Linked DNA regions of Homo sapiens: region 2 is linked to region 1. The links come from fine-mapping of genetic effects on gene expression. A gene starts in region 1. The other region holds a variant in brackets. All regions are shown on one strand. Distances are between the middles of the regions. Region 1 holds the start of KDM4C (lysine demethylase 4C). Region 2 overlaps KDM4C (lysine demethylase 4C).

What was found.
Region 2: its variant is fine-mapped to the expression of KDM4C in thyroid (GTEx, PIP 0.93).

Annotation. Positions count from the first base shown.
Region 1 is chr9:6,756,745-6,759,667 of GRCh38, reverse strand. It overlaps KDM4C (lysine demethylase 4C), which reads right to left and starts at 1,695. Exons shown (of 22, transcript NM_015061.6): 1 at 1,465-1,695. RefSeq lists enhancers at 382-601, 1,802-2,161, 2,893-2,923 and silencers at 1,262-1,431, 1,522-1,761.
Region 2 is chr9:6,980,791-6,983,713 of GRCh38, reverse strand. KDM4C (lysine demethylase 4C) reads right to left here. Exons shown (of 22, transcript NM_015061.6): 9 at 2,596-2,789. Among named protein-coding and RNA genes, the nearest start is that of KDM4C, 220 kb to the right of the region's middle. The variant C/T (reference allele first, on the strand shown) is at 1,615.

The DNA of each region.
Region 1 (2,923 bases):
TTTTCAACTTTAGAAAAGCAACTGACTAAAGTCTGTTAATAAAAAGAAATAAGTCTTCGGTTTAAATTGTACTGTATTACCAAGTTTGCGGGATACTGTAAAGCTTATGTGAAAACTTTTCATAACACTGAAATTGGGAGAAAAAGCACCTAAAAAACCCGAACAACCGTGTAATCCGTTCCAAAACAAACTATGGGCGGGTTGCGCGGAGGCCAGCAAGGTAAGAAAGCAAGCGATAATCGCAAAGCAGAGCCGACTGCTTCCTAATAAAAAATGGACCTTTAAAAATTAAAACCACTAGTTTTCAACCACAACACTTCGAAATGAGAATATTAGTCACCGTTGCCATAGAAACAGTAAAGCCAAGCTGCCCGGAATTTAGACATTTTTTTAAATACCGCAAACTGAAATGGGTGAAAATAGGGCAGAGTTTAGTGTGAACCTAAGTGGCCGGAACCTACTAGTAACTTTCACCAGGATAAAAGTGACTCTGCTTTTCTAACCTACATTTCCGAACAGTGCTTTATAAATCACCTCTCGGGGTTAGTTTATCAAGCGCAAAAAAAAGTTTACCTTGTCTCTTCCGGAAGAAGGAACCTGACAAAACCCCTCCCGGTAGTATTGCCCACAATCAGAGCCAGCCAGCGCAGGCTTGCACCGCGCAGCAAAGGGGGAGCCCAGCATCAAGTCCACGCGGAAAGCATCTGAATCCCGGCTGCTGGCTTTACTGGCGGAGCACAGAGGAAAACCCCAAGCTCCTGCCTACAGCCCCGGCCTGTCTGGCTCCCTCCTCCACGTCCCCACTCCACGCCACGTTCTGTGCCTGGCAGTCCACGCGCCCTAATCCAACTCGCATTTATTTAAGCACCCGCCGTCTACACCGCATCATGGTTCCTCCAGGCACTGCAGGAAGAAATGGCCCCATGCCGGGGGAAAGAAACACCAAAAGGACAGCCGCGAGGGCTGAAGACGACCCCGAATGACGGGATGACTGCCTGCAACGGGTGGTCAGGAGAGGAGCTCCCACCCTCACCCCGCGGGTCGTGACACTCCCAGGGAAGGGAGGGCCCCGAGGGGTGCACCAGGCCCGGCCTTCCTGGAGTCCGCCACAGCCGACTGGCGGCGTTAAGAGGTCCGCATCCCAGGACCGCCCGAGCGCTCCTCTGCCCCAAGGAGGCGACCCCGACTCCGGATCCCGGGAAAACGGCGAGCGCGGGTACCGAACCTCGGTAAGGGCCGGAGCGGGCTGTCACCGGCCCCCGCATCCCTCCCCTGCGGCCGCGGCCGGCCGCTCCCTCCCCAGCTTGACAGTCGCTGCAGTCACGGACGGAGCGTCTCTGCCCCAGCGTCGCCGCTCGCCCGGACGCCCGCACCCCCGTGCCCCACGCGGAGGGGGGCAGTGCCGGGAAGACCTCTCCGGACCCTCCCCCCGCCCTGGCCCCCAGACTCCGGAAAAGCGGTTACCTGGCGCGCGGGTTGGGGCGAGAGCACGACTCGGTGGAGGAGGAAGAGAAGACAGTGGCCTCCGGCCCAGGGAGATTTGGGAAATTTGGGAGACTTGTTCCGCACTAGGTGACAGCTGTTCGCTGCGCACGCGCACAGGACCCCGGCCGCCCGATCACTGCGCCGCGCCTCACCCTCCCGTCGAGGGGGTGGGTGGGAGGCAGCGGCGAAGGCGCGCGCACCGCCGGCTCTCCCTGCGCGAGGGCGCGCGCGCCGTCACGTGACCGCTGGGGCCCGCACTTGGTGAGTCACGTGGGCTTACAAACAGCTTAAAGGTGCCCGGCACGCTCTTGCTTTGGGCTCAACTTCCGCGCTGTGGTTAACTTAGGCTTGCTGGCGCGCATCTTCTTGTCCTTTGGACACAGGCATATCCCATTCTTTCCGGAGGGGAAAGATACTCGCGTAGAAGGAGAAAACAGGTGCACAGAACCTTGCCCGGAAGCGCTGGCTGGGGTCCCGCAGGGCTGGACCTGATGTAGTCCACGCGCCACACGTCCTCCTGGGCGCCGACGCGCACCTATGGCGGCCTCCGACGCGCGGACGTCAGCGTGGCGTTACCGGGGTGGAGCCTCGGAATGTACTGGAGAGCCTGGCGAGAAAGTCGGGGCTCGCAGCTCTCCGGCGATGACAGCGCTGTGTTCCCGTTCTCCCTTCACCCGGTGGCCGGGACCACTGAGCCTCCTTCCCACAATGGGAGATCCCGAATAGGCGAAGAGTATCTTCGTGTCCCAACCCTTTAACAACTACCGCGCAGGAGCGTGTCAGCCTCTGGAAGCAAAACTGTCCGGTGTTGAGTCACCTACACCCAGCACGTCCCGCCCCGACCCGCCCAAGTGTGCTCTTAAGATAGGGAGGCACAAAGGTGACCCCAATAGGAATCCTGGGCTGGCGGTCCCTCAGAAACTAGAGTTGATAACAGTTTGGCCAGAACTGAAGTGACTAGAAATGCAGGTGCCTCCAGCGTCTGAGACTAGATAAGTTAACTTCCTACAACTTGTTGCTTTTCCTCTGTAACTCCGCCTTCCGAGGTGTCAGAAGGAACCAACCAGACCTTAAGCCCCTGTACTGCCAAAGACAGATGGTTGAGCATCAGATGTTTTGCAAAGCTGAATGATTTTTTTTTTAAACTTCCTACAGAGCTCCCAGCTGGGTCCCTTGTGGCGTTTTCTCTAACGTCTTAGCTAAGAAAGATTGGGCATATCTTCACACCAGTGAGCAAAGTTGGGCTAATATGCTGAATTTTCTGTTACATTATACTGATAACAGAATTTTAAAAATATATCGACACCGCTTACCACGCGCTTGAACTCGTTTCTCACTGGGGTGAACATTGTGAGGACAGATGGAATGTGATTAATTGAGCTAAGGCTAACGGGATTATTGGGTCACCATATTTCTTTAGTTGTTAAAAACAAAGTTC
Region 2 (2,923 bases), 220 kb before region 1:
CATTGAGTTTTGTATAATTGTCAGGTATGTATGAAAATAGTTCAAATTAAATGCCAATTCATCAATAGCGAAAGGATTTAAAACAGACACAGGCTAACTGGTGTGTGTGTGTGTGTGTGTGTGTGTGTGTGTGTGTGTGTCATAAAGACACTGTCTCACTATATTGTCCCGGGTGGTCTAGAACTCCTGGCCTCAAGTGATCCTCCCCCACTGCCTCCCAAAGTGCTGGGATAACAGGCATGAGCCACCACATTCAGCCTAATTTTATGTATTTAACATCGTACATCAACATACTATTTTCAGAGTGAACACAATTTTTATCTTCTTCCTGAGTATTTTCCAGCAGGTCACTTGATAGCTTTGGCATATATGCTTTTTACATATGAAACAAACATTCCTAACAATTAGGAACAATTACAAATCAACTCAAAGCAACAGTGTCCAAAACACACCCATATGTATTATACACACACAAGAAACCACCACAGGACTAAGCACTGTAGGAAGTCAGGGAGGGCAGAGAATAGGGTGGCCTGCGATAACCTATATAAATTAGCTTTCACTGCTACTGATGGCAGTAACTGCAGTAGTATGATCATCACCATCATTGCTTTTGTTGCAAATCCATGCATTGGCTGATGTGGGAAAATCTCAACATTATAAACAGTGTAGTATATGTGAAAAAAAGAAGGCTGACATGTGCTTGAGACATCAATGAATCATTCCCTTCATCAGACTTCCCTAAATGGGCTATTTCCAAAGGGAGATCAATAATCTCTAAATATCAAGCCACAAGGCTGAGCATATTAAACAAGCCCATAGTCAGGCTTTCTAAGTAGGTGAGCAAGTTCCATTGATTATTTGAACCTACTGACAAGCATTTTGATCTGTTCAAGTGTCATAAATCCATGTTCTCTATCAACCCAAAAGGCCCACTGTGGTTAATACCTGGAAACCAAGTCATACACCTAATGAAAATATTGTGTTTTCCATCCATGACAGAACAATGCTCAAGATGTTCTCCTGGTGTGTATTCTGAACTCAGGATTGGATACTGCCTCCTTCCAGCGCTGGCTTCTTTAGTGCTGTGAATTAACACAGTTATCAAAGACACTGACTGTCCAAATTAGTATTTCTCAAACTTTTCTTGAATGTAACCCACAGTGAGTTATATATTTCAGATAGTGACACTATATACACACATACACACATACTCACACATGTCATGAGTGAATATTTGCCCTTACCACAGAGGAAGCACTATAATACTTTTTATTCTATTTTACCACCTCATTTTAAAATGTTGGTCCTGACCTACTAACAAACACTTTGACGATCATTGCGGTAAACTACAGGGGGAAATATCAACACCTGAGTTAGTTCTGCACCTCAGGTCTACCTCTTATAAGATGCCGAAGTTTGACTCCATGTTCCTAAGGTTCTTCCACTCACTACCACTCTAAATAAGCAGAAAATAAATATCAGGGAAAAAAAAAAGACAGAAAATAAGCATCATAAGTCTGGGCAAAGATGTAAAATTATGGTGTTACTTAGTTAATATCAAAAAAGTGGACACAAGCTACAGGGGATTAAATACATGCAGGCATTAAAAAT[C/T]ATGTTGCAGCAAATCAATCAGTTACATGAAAAAAACACTCAAAACTGATTGTCAGATTATTAACAGAGCATGGCCCCAATTTTGGAAAGATATATAATATTATAAAATATATAATAAATATATAGGTAAAGGATATATACAAAATGTTAATACTGGTTATCTCTGGATAGTGAGGTTATGAGTGATATGGGATTCCTTCATTATTCTTTTCCTTATTTTACAAATTTCCTCCAATGCACAAATATTACTTTTATAATCTGAAAGAAAAACAATGAGTAATATTGAAGAGGAAAATTTAACATAAAATTGGAAAACATAAGACCCTTAAAAGGTAGCCTAAGGACCTGAGCAACACCACACACACCCTATTCAATAGGTTTTAAAACAACAAGATGCCCACAGCACATCTAAAAGCTTTTGAAATGATCCTGGCCACAAAGATGGAATGGAGAATAAAGTTCACAAGGATAAGCATGTTACAGAAATGCTATATGCTGTGTTTTACATCTTACAAAAGAATAAAACCATGTGCATAAAATGTAGTAAAATATAAGCATCCAGAAGAGAGCAGTAGCTCAGATGTTGGACAAATGAAGAAGATAACCACTAAAGCCAAAAAGCAAAATGGTGGCAAAATGAAAAAGTGGAAAATCAAGTTATTGATTAAAATATGGAAATGCACAGAAAGGAATAATACAACCATAAAACACATTCATGTAAGTGGTCTAACAAGTTCTATATTGTTCTATTTGCCATGTCGAGCAACTTCAGGAATATTCTCAAACAAAATAAATATACATCTCTTCCTATATTGTATTTATTACACACCTAAGAATTAAAAATAATGTCTCACATTTTCAGAAAGGTATTAAGTTATGATGAATAAATAGAAAAAGCAAGTAAATTGCCACATCCAATGACCCATTTTAACTGAGAAAACACGACAGGCAAGGCAGGTCAGTGGGGTGAGGGGTCATTACCTTCGGGATGCTTTTCTTACTTTCCTCCTCCTCTGCAGCCATGCTTTTACTTCAGGGGTGGATGCTGGAGTAGGCTTCGTGTGATCAATGGTGTATATATCCTTTCCTTGTTTCCAAAGCTGATATCTGTCTGGCTGAAATTTCCTCACAAAGATATCCATTGAAATCTTCACCATGTCTTTCCTGCAAGTGCACTGAAACACAACCGGGTTGGAGAGTGTTAAACGTTTCGCTAACTATACAGTAACACAGAGTTGGTCCTTGAACACATCATCCATGAATACTTAGTCACTACATAATGGAGGATAATGCATTACATTATCAAACA